Linked DNA regions of Homo sapiens. The protein of the gene in region 1 interacts with the protein of each later gene in a biochemical or structural test. Each region holds a gene or a part of one and is shown in the gene's direction. Other genes may lie near its edges.

Evidence for each region.
Region 2: the proteins of SPARC (region 1) and COL5A1 form a complex in vitro, tested with the Homo sapiens proteins (one study listed by BioGRID).

Annotation. Positions count from the first base shown.
Region 1 is NC_000005.10:151,676,916-151,684,719, reverse strand, and holds part of SPARC (SPARC isoform 1 precursor), read left to right. Parts: intron 1-4,963; exon of another isoform or gene 4,964-5,064; intron 5,065-5,383; exon of another isoform or gene 5,384-5,500; intron 5,501-7,672; exon of another isoform or gene 7,673-7,775; intron 7,776-7,804.
Region 2 is NC_000009.12:134,644,803-134,651,802, forward strand, and holds part of COL5A1 (collagen alpha-1(V) chain isoform 1 preproprotein), read left to right. Parts: intron 1-3,251; exon of another isoform or gene 3,252-3,462; intron 3,463-3,588; exon of another isoform or gene 3,589-5,404; intron 5,405-7,000. UniProt on the Homo sapiens protein: Type V collagen is a member of group I collagen (fibrillar forming collagen). It is a minor connective tissue component of nearly ubiquitous distribution. Type V collagen binds to DNA, heparan sulfate, thrombospondin, heparin, and insulin.

The DNA of each region.
Region 1 (7,804 bases):
AAGCACTTTGCGAATTGTGGCATTCCCTCATAATGCAAAGGGTTTTAGAACTGATGGATTAAAGGCATCCAAAGACCTAGTGAAATCATTCTCAGCTTTTTTTTTTTTTTTTTTTCCTGGCAGCTCCATCATCTTGGGGTTTGTATAGAACTTTCCTTTACTAGAAGTACTGACAGGAAAAATTTTAAAATCATAATATTGTTTATCTTCATTTTGATTTGGGGAACTTCTTGTGTATTTCCCAAGACTGTTGTGCCCTCTATGTAGGAAAAGCATTGGCCAAGGGTGAAAAAAAAAAAAAAAAGTGTGTTCTAACTCCCAGTGCCTGACATTGGGAAAGACACTTCCTCTCTTGAGGCTGCAGTTTCCCAAACTGTTAAATAGAGTTTCTAAGCTAGATGATTTCCCAGGCACCCTTCTAACTCTGAAGTCCTATAAACCTAAATCCCAGATACCGCTTTTATTCAAAGGAATAGCTTGCCTGCATTTTTAACACCGCCTTACTGCACCCCCAGTTGAAAAGAAAACAAGAAAAGATGGGCTAGGGGATCTTGAGTTGCATAACCATCATGCTGTAATCCTTATCCATCTGTAGAGATTTGTCAATCAACAGTGTGGCTGGGGTTTGCTATTCATGAGAGCAGCTTTCCTTGCTGAAAACAAGCTATAAATAAGAAAGAATGGTGAAGGAAAGGAAAGAGCTGAGGATGTGAGGTAAACAGTAGAATATTTGGCTTTTGAAGTTGTTTATGTAGGTAGATAAATATGCAGAGATAAACAGGGACAGGTACAAACCCATAGGGATGAAGAGTATAAACATCGATTTCATCAACAGGCACCCACTGGCTCAGCTAAAAATAAGTGCCTCATTACAGGAGCAGACACAGAAAGTCATTCACTCACACACCTCTTCCTGGATGACAATGATTTACAGACAAGTTCCAGGAATATATCTCAATGAATGTGAAAATTCTGACCCTCGCCTATTACAGGCTGAAACAGACAGATGCTAAGTCAGGCTGTATGTAACTTACACAGACATGCCATCAGGTATACAAACACACACCGCCACTTGCAGCCACACATGGATGGATGTGCACAGTCAAACATATGCACAGTCAAACATAATATGGATCATGACAATGAGACAGACGTGTAACCTACATTTATCACCAACCACCTCTATGTCTCAGAGAGAGAGAAACTGAGGCTCAGGAAGAGAAAATAACTCACTGGAGGTCACATAGCAAGCTGGCGTCTGAGCCAAACTTCCACGTGTTTGGAGCCATTTTGATATTCACCTTGCCTTCCCCCCCAATCCCCATTTGTTCAGTTTGGAAACACACTTATGCACACAAGCCCCATGGATACTAAGTGGTGAGCAGCACTTTGTCTCTCCCGTTGGCTGGCCTGCAATGCCTATTCCAGCCCACGTGGCTTTGTCATTAGGCCCAAAGGCCCTGCATGATGTGCCTGTAGGCGGCTGCTCCCTTGCTTCTAGCTGGCTCCCTCCCAAACGTCAGTTTCAAAGGAGAGAAGGGAAAACCAGCCTTGAGCTTTCAGCAACCCTGAGGACCTTGTTTCTACAGCACAGACCCTGATGCCTCCCTCCCTCCCTCCCTCCCTCCCAACCTCAATCCTGAACCCAGGGACAGCTGGGCTGTGCAGGGCCAGGGCCAGCAAGTAGTGACTTGACGGAATTATTTAGAGAAACAGCCTCTCCTCAACTGGCAGCTTAGACAGGAAATCATCTCTGCTCTCACCCATCAAGCTATAGAACTTTATGTCTGCAAGGAAAACATGAACATAGACAACAATTGTTGTCAGAGCTGGTTTCTTTCAGAAACTTGGTATTAACTTCTCTCATCTGGGGATCACTCTGGGTCATCTTGATGTTAGTCATGGCATTAGGATTTCAGACCTATCAGATAAAAAAAGCAAAGCAAACATCTGGATGTTTTTGAACATCTGGAAATTTGGCTTAGACACCAGCTTGCCGTGTGACCTCCAGTGAGGTATTTTCCTTCTCTAAGCCTCAATTTCTCTACCTCTACAATAAGAGGCAGCACACAGAGGTTTCATGTGGCCTGACAACATCACTAATTCATCGGTAGTGGCTGTCAGAAGAACTGTGTTCAGGATTCTGATGACTCTCTAAGCTTTAGGAGAAGAGGTCAAGCGATTGATTAGTAATGTCTGCCACATGTGCAGGAGGGGTAGGTGGAGGCCACGTGTTTGTCACATATGCCACATATTTGCTATCTTTGGGATCTCGGAGGCTTTTCCAGATGCAATAGCCTGGACACTTTGATGTTATTTCTCATCCTTTCATTTGTGGTCACCACAATGCAGCAGCGGTGCCCTAGAGGGAGCCAAGGATGAAGCCTGAAGCTCCACCCCAGCCTCTGCTAGCCACAGTGAAATGTGGCATCTCAGATGTCTTTATGGAATCTCGGGCTGATTCCAGCCCCAAACTCTGGAGCCACCTCTGAGTTGCCCCAGAAGCTCTCCAGTCCTAAGTTTTAGCTACCACACCTTAAAAGTTTCCTTTAGCGTCTTTCCTTCCAGCAGGAAATAGAAGTGGAAGCAGGGAGTCAAGGGGCAAGTGGAGAGAGGTAAGGCTCTAAAAAGCTTCTGCCCAAGTTGATCCGGAAAATCAGAGCTGAAAAGAACCTAAAGGACCACCTTGCCTAAGGGTTCCATATTGTGTTCCTAGGAGAAAGTACAGATGTTCCAAGGTATCTTAGGGAATGTCCCTGTGTGTAGGACTCCCACTCCTCAGCTCCACTCCACTTTTATCTGCTTTTCTTTTTTGTGGATTTTTTTGAGAGGGAGTTTCACTCTTGTTGCCCAGGCGAGAGTGCAATGGCACAATCTTGGCTCACTGCAACCTCTGCCTCCCAGGTTCAAGTGACTCTCCTGCCTCAGCCTCCCGAGTTGCTGGGATTTTAGGCGCCCGCCACCATGCCCGGCTAATTTTTTGTATTTTTAGTAGAGACGGGGTTTCATCATGTTGGCCAGGCTGGTCTCGAACTGCTGACCTCAGGTGATCTACCCTCCTTGGCCTCCCAAAGTGCTGGGATTACAGGCGTGAGCCATTGCGCCCAGCCTGCTCTTGTTTTTTAATTTCACACTTATTGATTAACTAGATAATACTCATTCACATGGTTCAGTACATGCTAAAAGATTTCAGCTGTTTGAAATATCGGACTCTGCAGAAGACTTCATTGAAATAAAGGATTTTCTGGCTTACATAATTTTGAGCACTGACCTTATACAGACAAGCTGGGGGTGTTAGTTCTGGAGAGCAGAGGAGACTCCCCTGAATTCGCACAGTGAGCTGGGAGACATGCTGACTTGCTCTCAGCTCTCCTGACTTCCACGTCATGAGGCCACCTCTGAGCTGCTGTGTCTGCTCCCAGGGGTGTGAGCAGGAGTGCCATTGTAGCTGCATGTGGCCACCTCTCTGGCCTGCCTGGCTCGGTCCCCATGTCAGCAGACCCCAGGCTCCTTCCGAGTCCCAACTCCCTGGAGGGCCTGGCTCTTGGCTTCCTTTATTAGCCTCTAGGCTTGTTTTCCTCTCTTTGGGCTTGTTTACCAGCAACATGTGTTTTTGGAGCCCTTGTTTCCAAGCCAAATAGTGAGAGTGAGATGCTTGGCTGGTATCAGCTGCCCAAGTAAGAGGCCAGCCCTGGGCCTGGTCTTCGTCACTGTATCCTCTGGAGGCTGGACTTACCCAGACCAACAGGGGCAATATGTCCTTTGTTCCACCCAAACACCCCTTTCTCCCTGGGCTTATAAAGCACTGGAATTTTGCACTGAATTCTTTCGGGGGATGGAGATTCTGGGAACCTCGGACTTTATAAGATGCTCTTCCCAACGACAACATTGCTTACCTCTTTATTTGGATTCTCTTGTGTAAATCACCCATGAGCCTTTAAAGATTGGTATGTTATTGTTTCCATTTTACACATTGGGGAACAAATTGAGGCCCCAAGAGGTAAAGTTGATTTCTAAAGGTCATACAATTACTAAGTGGTGAGCCAGGATTTGAACCTGTATATTCTGGCTCCAGAGCCTATGAGCTTACCTTTATGCTATACTGCCTCATAGTTTATTATCACTCTGTCTACCATGGTAGCCACTAGCCACATGTGGCTATTTAGATTTAAGTTGATTAAAATAGATGGGCATGGTGGCTCACGCCTATAATCCCACCTCTTTGGGAGGCTGAGGCGGGCGGATGGCTTGAGGTCAGGAGTTCGAGACCAGCCTGGGCAACATAATGAAGCCCCATCTCTACAAAAAAGAAAAGAAAAGAAAAATTCGCTGGGTGTAGTCACAAGTGCCTGTGATCTCAGCTACTCGGGAGGCTGAGATGGGAGAATCACTTGAGCCCAGGAGGCAGAGGTTGCAGTGAGCTGAGATTGCGCCAACCACACTCCAGTCTGGGTGACAGAGGGAGACCGTGTCTCAAAAAAAAAAAAAAAAAAAAAAAAAAAAGATGTTTTCCACTATTCTCTATTGCAGTATTTCAACAAGGTATGGGTTAAGTAAGATATTTTGGATTGGCCTCAGTCCTTTTGCATAAAATTTTTAAATAAAAAAATTGGTTAAAATGAAATACAATTTAAAACTCAGTTCTTCATTTGCACTGGCAACATTTCAAGCATTCAGTAACCACTTGTAACCAGTAGCTATCATAGTGGACCACGTAGATATAGAATGTGTTCATCATCTTGGGAAGTCCTGTTGGGTTGCATTACTCCATAAGTTCTTTCCACCCAAATAAGATTTAATGATGGCAACTCAGTTTCTTTGCTTCACATCCTAAGTCTATCATTCTGAGACCCACAGTCCATGATTCTATGATTCTGAGGTATCCCCCCTGTTCTAACGTTCAGTGGCTTTTTAACGTCCAAGGAGAGCCCAAAGGAGGCCCTTTATGTTTTGAGGGACAAACCTGGGGGCTGGCTGTACTTTTCCATCCTCAGAGTCTTTCCAGAGAGAGAAGTGACCTCAGCTTCAGGTCCTGCTGGCAGCCAAGGACGGGTTTTCAGCAGTCTCCAGAGCAAATAAAGGCAAAAGGAAGGGACTCGATGTACGGAACAGGAGGCAGTGGCGGCTGGGAGGGGGCTAAAACTGTCTGCATTTGATGGCCACCATGCCAAGGGAAATATGCCTTCTCTTCCTCCCCTGGCCCTGGGCATTTTCCTTCCCAGGAACTCAGGCCAGTTCAAGGCCCAACTGAGCCCCATTCAGGTGACCACCTGGGAGCGGGTAGCTGCCAAGGGAAATAGTGTGCAGAGGTAGAGACATACCAGTGGTGGGGTAGGGTTGCACGGGTTCTCACCCTAGCCCTGCCACCCAGTCACTCACTCACTGCTGTTAGCCGTTGGCAGTTTTCTCCTTTCCTCTAGGCCTTGGTCTTCTCATCTGTACTATTGGGCAGAAATATGTGACTTGAGCCCCCAGTGGGGTGCTGGATTATGAAAACACCCTGAAAATGATAAATGTATGCATCATCACAGACTAAAGAAATACAAAGGAGGGAGTTTTTGTTTAATATTGGTCATTTATATGAAGGGAATTTAAATTTTCGCCAGGCACGCTACACCTAGGTTTGATTGGCAAAGGATCACAGCTGTGAGTTCTGAATGCTGGGGTTTGATACTGTGTTCTGACCTTGCTGGGGTGACTGTTATACTCCATTAGCTTTGCAGGATGGACACAGGGCTCTTTGGTCAGTGGTAGTTTAGAGAGCCTCAGAGAGGTATCTCGTGGGGAGGCAGGGAGATGGCTGTGCATCTGGAATAGTTCAGCCGCTTCCCTTCCCTCCCATCTCATCATCTGGGGGAAAAGTGCTCTTGGACTGGTGGTGTAGCACCGGGTGCTGGGCAGGACCCAGATTTTGTGTTTGTGTTTACAGTTTTCTTCCAAAACTTTTAAGGTGTATTCCAAGATTTTGCGTTCTGTTCTTAACAGTCTCTCTGCATTTCTCCCCCACTCCCACTTGTCTGAGCGTAATTCCTATTAGGCTCACCCCAACTCCATGAGTGAGAACGCTTGCCTATTTGGAGAGGGCCTGAATTGTTGCATGACTTTGGACAAGTGCTTCCTCCCTCTCAACCTCAGATTCCCCATTAGGACAGTGGGACTAAGAACCCTTCCATGCCTGTCTGCCTACTTCCCAGCATTGTCAGAAGGCTCTAGGAGACAGTGTTATGTGACAGTGCTTTAGAAACTATGAAGCAGCACTATAAGACTTAGAGTTATTTTTCTCTTCTGGCTGCAACAGCAGGGATGGGGGTGGCAGGGAGGGTGAGTGTGCAGCTGGAAAAGGAATTCAGGAAGATGAGGAGGCAGGACAGACAGAAGAGCCGCCCAGCGAAACCTTCCCCTGGTCACAGAGGGGAGCGCGGTTACTCTGCTCATATGAAGGACGCAGACTCAGGGAAATGTCTGTCTTCCTGTCTTTCTAATCTGAAGCTTACTACATTTCCAGTCCTAGCTGGGCTATTTCTTCAATAACATGACTTCCCTGTCATTATAGCTCAGACAGGGTAACTTTTTGTTTTGTTTTGTTTTAGCTGCTATTTCACTTTGATCCTTCAACCTCAAACTATCTCAGACAAGTCCTTCCTTGATGTTTTCTTTTCTGTTCCATTTGTCCCAAGCCACATGCAGGAGTTATTTATCTTGCGTCTTCCAAAAGGGGAAGCAAGAAGGGAGATTTTTCCACTTAAGCCTGGGGAACAAGTGAACAACTGTGTGAGGGGAGGAACATTCCACAAGCTGCCTCAAAAGGGAAGACTAGACTCCTCTGGAAGTTGGGGTTATTGTGAAGCAATACCAAACCCCCAGGTCCTTTACATTTCTGTTAGTTTTACTTCATTCACTCTGTGCAATAGGGGGTGAGGTTTTGTGTCTCTTTAAGCCCAAGAAAGGACCATTATGAAGTGGGCTCTTCCTCTGCCTGTTTCTGCTTCCCAAATGCTATAGTACAAGTGAAGACATATGATCCCAGAGGAGACCATATGTGTCAAGACCAGAATGTGCTTGGGGTGTCTTAAGAGCATTTTAAGGACCGAGGCTGCCACTTCAAAGTTCACCTAGTCTACCCATTTCAATTGATAGATGGGGGAACCAAGGTCTAGAGAGACCAAAAGACTTGATACTACTGTGGTAGAACAAGACCCCCTGGCATTTAATTTCAAGCTGAGTATTTTTCTCCATGATGCCGGGTTACCTCCCACCACCATTTGGTCAGTTGAGAAGTCTTGGAAGAAATAAGGGATGATGAGCCTGACAGGGAGGTTTTGGGAGAAGAAAGAGGGAAGACATGGCCACTGTTGCTCCTGATGGAAGGTTATTTGTGGGTAGAGAGAGCAGGTTTGTTCTTTGTGGCTGCAGGGGAGATGGGGTAGACAGATCAGAAAGTTTGAGGGAGGCACATTTAGATCAGTAAAAGAAAGAACTTTCTAAAGTCACTTGAGAATGAAAAGCCATTTAGTTAGTGCAAGAAATGAAATGTCTCCACCACAGAGCCTCTGTTAGGAATAGCATTTTAGTTTTGAATCCTCAGAGGAGATACTGCTCCAAAATCCCTTATAGTCATGAGAGTATTAGAGTCTAGAGCTTGGCATTTAGAGAATGAGGCCTTAACAGTTACCAGAACAGAGGTATTTTCTAGATCTCAGCTAACATCCCCTCTGCAACACATGGAAGCATCTGGATGGTTTCCGTACAGGACCTAAAGAAGTGCTGTCTCTTCTGGGTAGAATGGAGAAAAATGTGGCCACCC
Region 2 (7,000 bases), on another chromosome or scaffold:
AGGTCATCTCCTCTACACGCCATTGGTTGACTCCAGTCACGTGATTGCTTTTTGCAATAATTTGTGGGGAGAGTCGGCCAAGTTTTGTGAGACTTGACAGGTATCAAATGGTTAAATTTCCTCTGACTCAATCAAGTTGGCTGGAAAGACATCCTTTTCCATCCTCTGCCCCCTCCCTCCCTCTCCCCATAAAAGAGCAGTGAGTGGGAGGAGCTCAGAAGCCCCAAGAATTCCCCAAGCCCTCTCCCTGCTGTGGTCCAGATTTGCCGGAGGGGTTGGAGTTTTGGTTGCTACCCAGGGCTGTGCCCACCCAGCAGTGCGGCAGCCCCAGGCAGGGGCGTGCTCCCAGTGCCAGGCTCACAGTGGTTTCTCCAGTGATGTTACTCCTGGGCTGCTCCTGCGGGGCTGGCCAGAGCCTGCTCTTCACCCCGCCCTGCAGATATTTCTGGACTCCCCACCGCCACGCCTCAGCCGAACACAGCTGGTGCTGCCCGTCCCGCCCTGCCTTCTCGCTGCCTGGCCTGTCTGCCTGCCCTGCCTCCTCCCTGGACCGCCCCATCCCACCTCCTGGGAGATAGACCTTGATAGGTGGAGTAGGGGCTGTGCAGAGCAGTGAGCTGCCCCGCTGGAGGGCGAGGATGAGTCCCCAACACTTCCCGAGGGCACCCACATAGGAGCCTGAGCCAAGCTGCATCTGGAACAGTGCAGGACCTGTCCCTGCTCGGTCACGTGACGTGGCTCTGGGAATGGCCTTGGGAGACAATCACACATGGGAATGGAGGGGCTGGCACTTGCCTGGCCTGTGGTGAGCATCAGCTGCACCATCTCACTGCACCCTCACCCGGGCCTGAGAAGGGACAGAGCCTAGGAGTCAGGGGGCAGGGATGCCAGGCAGATGTCTTCCATTCCTGCTGTGGGGCCCTAAGCCAGCAACGGCCCTTCGCCTGGCATGGTCACTCTTTGACTTGTCACAGTTCCCTCTTCTCACTTCCCATCGGTTTATCAGCTCTCCCCGGGGAGAAGGCCAGGGCCCTGAGCTATAGTCCTGGCCTGGGGGCCCAGTCCAAACAGGGTCCTGGGAGCAGAGCCATTCCATTTGGCCAACACAGCTTTTAAGTTCCTTTCTTTCTCCTTCCCCCTCCATCCTTCCCTCCTTCCTTCTTTCCTCCCTCTCTTCCTCCCTCCCTCTCTCCCATCCCCTTCCTTCCTTCCCTTTGTCCCTCCATCCCTTCTCTTTTTACTCCAGTGCCTTCAAGAGGGATGCAGCAGCCACAGTCTCCACCACTTCCCAGGCCTCTCTGCACATCAGCATAACCTGCCTGGACCCTGAAGGCTTTTGCCTTTTCACCTGGGTCGGGCCTATCTTGGGGAGACCGAGGCAAATGGGATGGGACCCCTCGTTTCCTTCCAGGAGCTCACAGTCTGACAGGCAGACCATTGTGAATTTTACTCAGGGCCCTCCATGGGATGTGCTGGGTCTTGCATCCGACAGTCTGGGAGGGTTAATTGCACTGGGGAGAGCTGGGGAGCTTCCTGGAGGAGGTGATGTGAAACTGGCCTTCCCTCCTTCTCTTCTCCTTCCTTTTATTGCAGAAATGACCCTCCTTCGTGGGGTCCTCCTCCACCTCTGGCTTTAATCTTGCTCTCTTCCCTCCTTCTGACAGGACATTCCACACCGTGTCCCAGAGCTCTCCTGGGCGGCTCCCTTGGCTGGAAAGCCCCTCATTCACGGGCTTGGCAGGTGCTCCCAGTATCTGTTTGCCAGGAGAATACAAGTGCCCCTAAGGGAAGTGGCAGATCCTGGCAGCTTCCTTAACCCTTTCTCTGCCCCCGTTCCTCCTGTTTCCCTTTGACGAGCCCTGCTGGCCTGGCACAGTGAGCCCAGTCTGCACAGCTCTGCAGACAGCTCCACAGCTGTGGATTAGGATGTGGGGGCCTCTGGGGGTGATTTTGGGTACCTGTGCTGGGTGACAGGTGGTCGGATGTGGGAGGGGACATTCCTTGGCAATCAGATTACTGAACTCCAGGCCAGCAAGGTCGGTGTGAGGCTGGAGCTGAGTTTCCCTGCCTCTGAGGGGCTGTCGGATGGGCTGGGCGAGGACAAGTCACTGCACCTCAGCTTCCCCTCGTGAACATGGGGAGAACCACATTTCTTGCTTTGAGGCATGGTTGTGAAGATCGATTGAGGCCACACCTGTGAGAAGCTTTGCAGGCTGCCTGACCTGTACTCGGCACTGGCTGTGTGGGGACGTTACCATCGCCCCCATCTTCAGTGGTGGTTTTGCAGGAGGAAAGAGCAGTGTTCCCACAGCCCTCTTTAGCTCCCAGAAGCACAGGCGAGGGAGGTGTGCCTGTGTGGGGCCTGGCCCTGCTGAGACCCCTGGGGCTCTGCTGTTGCCCGCTTAGCCGGTCTCTGCTGCCCCTTTGCCTTCCTTGGCCTCGGTTCTTTGCTTTCCCACGGAACCTCATGGGGTCATTGTCCAGGCCGTGGGGTGTGATGCATGTGAAAAGCTTTAGAAGCCAATTCCAGGGTTTGCACTCATGTGTGCGTTTGTGTGTATGTGTGTCATGTGTGCGTGTGTGTGTGTGTGTGTCAGGCCGTGTGCACGTGTGGACAATGTGTATATCTCCCCGCGATCTGCCTGCACACATGTGTTTGTGGGTATACATGTGTGTTTGAGTGTGCACGCATGCGCATCCTTGCACATGTACCTGCGTTCACATGGGTGTCCCTGGCTGACTCCACGTGCAGGGCCTGGTGTGTTTGAGGAGCTCGTGGCAGGGCGACGTTTCTCTCCTTACCGTGACCCGGCCCCAGCTGGACGGGAGAGGAGGAGATGGCACGTGGAACCTGCCGGTTGAGCGTGAGGCTGTGGGTTCTGCCGCAGGGCAAGCCGGGTCCAGCTGGATCCGACAATTTCATGTCTTTTTAAACTCCCGGGAGGGCGATGTTACATTATGGCTCCCGCTTCTCCTCTATTTACATTCTCCCATATAATTGACTCGTCTGCTCTCTCTCAGTGCTTTGCCAAGTGTCGGTTTTAAAGTTTCTGGCCTGGCTGGTGGATGTGCCTCGATCCTGCAGGCGGAGCCCACAGCGGCCCTTGTGGTGGTTACTACTGAGTGTCAATTTGATTGGATTGAAGGATACAAGTATTAATCCTGCGTGTGTCTATGAGAGTGTTGCCAAAGGAGATTAACATTTGAATCAGTGGGCTGGGGAAGGCAGACCCACCGTTAATCGGGAGGGCACAATCTAATCAGCCGCTAGCAGGTGTAGAGCAGGCAGAAAAACATGAAGAGACGAGACTGGCCCAGCCTCCCAGCCTACATCTTTCTCCTGTGCTGGACGCTTCCTGCCCTCGAACATCGGACTCCAAGTTCTTCAGGTTTGGGACTCGGACTTGCTCTCCTTGCTGCTCAGCTTGCAGACAGCCTATTGTGGTGGGACCTTGTGATTGTGTAAGTCAGTACTTAATAAACTCCTATATATATATATATAATATATATATATATATTTCTATTATTTCTATTCCTATTAGTTCTGTCCCTCTAAGGGAACCCTGACTAATACAGCTCTGCTCATAGGCAGGACTGCAGGACTGCAGCCACCAGGACATGGCATAGGGACCAGGGTGGCCTGCTGGCAAAGGACAGGCAGCCGGCAAGACTCCTGGATTCCTATCCTGGCTCCAGTGTCTACCAGCAGTGCATTTTCCCACCCTGTGCCTCACTTTCCCCATCTGTAAGAAGGGGGTGGTGACTGTAACTACAGTAGGGTTTTAGTGATGTCTAATGTATTACTCATATAAAGCACAGAGTAAGACCCCATTACTGCCCTTGCCACCAGGGGCCCCAGTGCAGCAGGAGGCTGTGAGGTGGTTTGGGGCCCTCTACTCGCTGGCCTGTGCGTGCTCCCTTGCCATCCTGTGTGGTGTCACACTGCTGCTTCCCTCACTGGGTACGCAGGAGAAAAGGTAAGGCAGTAAGCACCAGTGGTCAGTTCAGCGGATCGCTCGCTGCTCGCTGCCTCTGAGGCTCTGAGCCTGAGCCAGGAAGGTGCATCCTTGGGCAGTCGCGGGCCAGGCCAAGTTCAGCCCGCAGAGTGGCCCTCCCCTGCCTCCTCTGGCCACTTGCTCTTTACAAGGAACGGAGGTCCAGGAGGTGGATGGACCTGTGCACCTCCCAGCTGCAGGCCTCTGTTCTGTCTCTGTGATGTGATGGCGGTGAGTGGTGGCTGATCACTGAAAGGAGGTGTTCCAGGCAGGGGTGGGTGAAGTTGGTGCGGGCGGGGTGTGGGGGGGGCTTTGCCATCTCAGATGTTGTTTTTGTGCCAGCCCAGCCCCAGGCCACTGGAGAGAAGACCGTGGAATGAATGAATTGGTGGCTGGATGCTCAGTGGAGGGGTGCGGGTCACTTTGAGTTATCCATGTCAGATAGTCCGAGCCGTCACACCCTCAGCTTCCTATCAGCAGAGGAGTTTTTCTGGAGGAATCTCAAACTAGGTAATAACCTCATATTAGCAGTAAATGTCACCATCCTTTGATGACTCAGACCTAAGAAATGGAACCACAGCCTGACCCACTTTTCTCAAAATTTAATTACTCAGAGCTCTGGGGACATGGGCTCAGCCTATTTGCCGAGATGTCTCTGCCCATGAAATGGAAGCTTCCTTTATTTTCTGTTTCCTAGACCCGTGTTCTTGTAGGGAAATTAGCTCTTCTGTCCTTTTCTTCCTTGCCAGGACCTCGGCAATAGGGTTTCTGGTGGCCTCTTTTTTTTCTGTAAATAAATGCCACAAAATGACATAAAAACAGTGTGGTGATTCCTCAAGGATCTAGAACCAGAAATACCATTTGACCTGGTGATCCCATTACTGGGTATATACCCAAAGGATTATAAATCATCCTACTATAAAGAGAAATGCACACGTATGTTTATTGCGGCACTGTTCACAATAGCAAAGACTTGCAACCAACCCAAATGCCCATCAATGATAGATTGGATAAAGAAAATATGGCACATATACATCATGGAATACTATGCAGCCATAAAAAAAGGATAGTTCATGTCCTTTGCAGGGACATGGATGAAGCTGGAAATCATCATTCTCAGCAAACTAACACAAGAACAGAAAACCACAAACACCACATGTTCTCACTCATAAGTGGGAGTTGAACAATGAGAACACACGGACACAGGGAGGGGAACATCATGCACCAGGGCCTGTTGGGGGGTGGGGGGCTAGGGGAGGGAGAGCATTAGGAGAAATACCTAATGTAGATGACAGGTTAATGGGTGCAGCAAACCACCATGGCATGTGTATACCTGTGTAACAAACCTGTGCGTTCTGTACATGTATCCCAGAACTTAAAGTATAATAAAAAAAATTTTTTTAAATGTGTGTATGTAGCAGGAGTGACTTAAGTTGAAAAACTCTGACCCTTGCATTGGGAAACAGTGATCTCCCAGTGAGAACACATGAGCATCGTAACCGTCTTCCATTGGAAGCGACCGTCTTCCATTCTGCTGGCGGGTGGCCTGGGGGACCAGCACTCTTTCCCGTGTGTGGGTACAGAGGGAACAGATGGGGTCCATATGCAAAGACATTGGGTGTGTCAGCAGGTTTGCTTGGCAGCATTTATGGACCCCTAACATGAGACGGACCTGTGCGGGGGGCACAGGTGAGCGATAGGCGAGCCGTCTGTGCCCTACTGGGTCTTCCGCTGCGGCGGGGGAGTCAGCCATCTGAACAGGTGGTTTTACCCAGTGAGGTGCAGTAGAAGTGGGAGTAGGGTGTGGCCAAGGCCAGTCTAGGGAGGCACCTGCCAGCCCCATGGGGCGGTGGCCAGTCAGAGACCAGCCTGCTTCTCCAGGGCCAGCCCTTTGGGATGCATGCGCCTGAAGGCAGGCTCCCATTGGTGGATGCAGAGGGCACGTTCCCGTGCATGTTCTTCCTCTGGCTCTTGTTCATATTTTCATATTTACACTGGACCCTGCTCTGAGGGTGCTCCCGTCAGCACCTGTGATCCTCAAACCCGCCCTTCGTGCCAGGTGGGATCGGCCCATTCTGCAGATGTGCCAGTCTAGCTCCTTGAGTCCAGCTGGCACAAGGGGATGAAAACCACCCTCCACGTCCCAGTGGTCACACGGCCTGCATGTTGGTGCAGGTCCGTACAGTCACATGCATGGACGCAAGCAGCCTCTGTCCATTCTCAAGGCCAGGTGAGGGCGGCGTGGCTCCGCTCCCTCCTGTTTGTTTGCTGGCGCCAGCCTCCATGGCAGCTGGGTCCCAGTGCTTCAGAAGGGGAGCCATGGCCCCAGGCAACAGTGCGTACCTGAAGCCTCTGCCTCGGTTTCTTCTTCTTCCTTTCAGATGCATAAAAATGCACATCAAGCCTGGGCACCATCTGGTGGCCTCTTTATTTTTTAAATAAATGCCATAAAATGACATAAAAACAGTGTGGCGATTCCTCCAGGATCTAGAACCAGAAACACCATTTGACCCAACAATACCATTACTGGGCACCACCTCTACAGAAATTTCAGAAACAATTAGCCAGGTGTGGTGGTTCGTGCTTGTGGTCCCAGCTACTTGAGAGGCTGAGGTGGGAGGATCACTTGAGCCAGGGAGGCTGAGGCTGCAGTGAGCTGTGTTTGTGCCACTGCACTGTAGCCTGGGTGACAGAGTGAGACCCTGTCTAAAAAAAAATGAAAATAAAAATAAAAATGTACACCAGAGAGCACGGTGGTCTCAGCTTTTCCAGCTGTAGTTTCGTCTTTCTTCTGGAGGACAGAGGCCCAGCCATCTGCATCCTCAGCACACAATTAGGTCAGTCACTGGGGCCTGTTGTGGGGGTGACAGGCAAGCCTGGGTGTGGGGAGAGCCGGCCCGTTGCCCATGGGCTCTGCACAGTGGGTGGGTGCAGGTGCGATGACAGGCGCGGGACAGAGGGGCCCCTGGGGGGACTTTTCTCGGGTCCTCTGCCTTCCCACCACT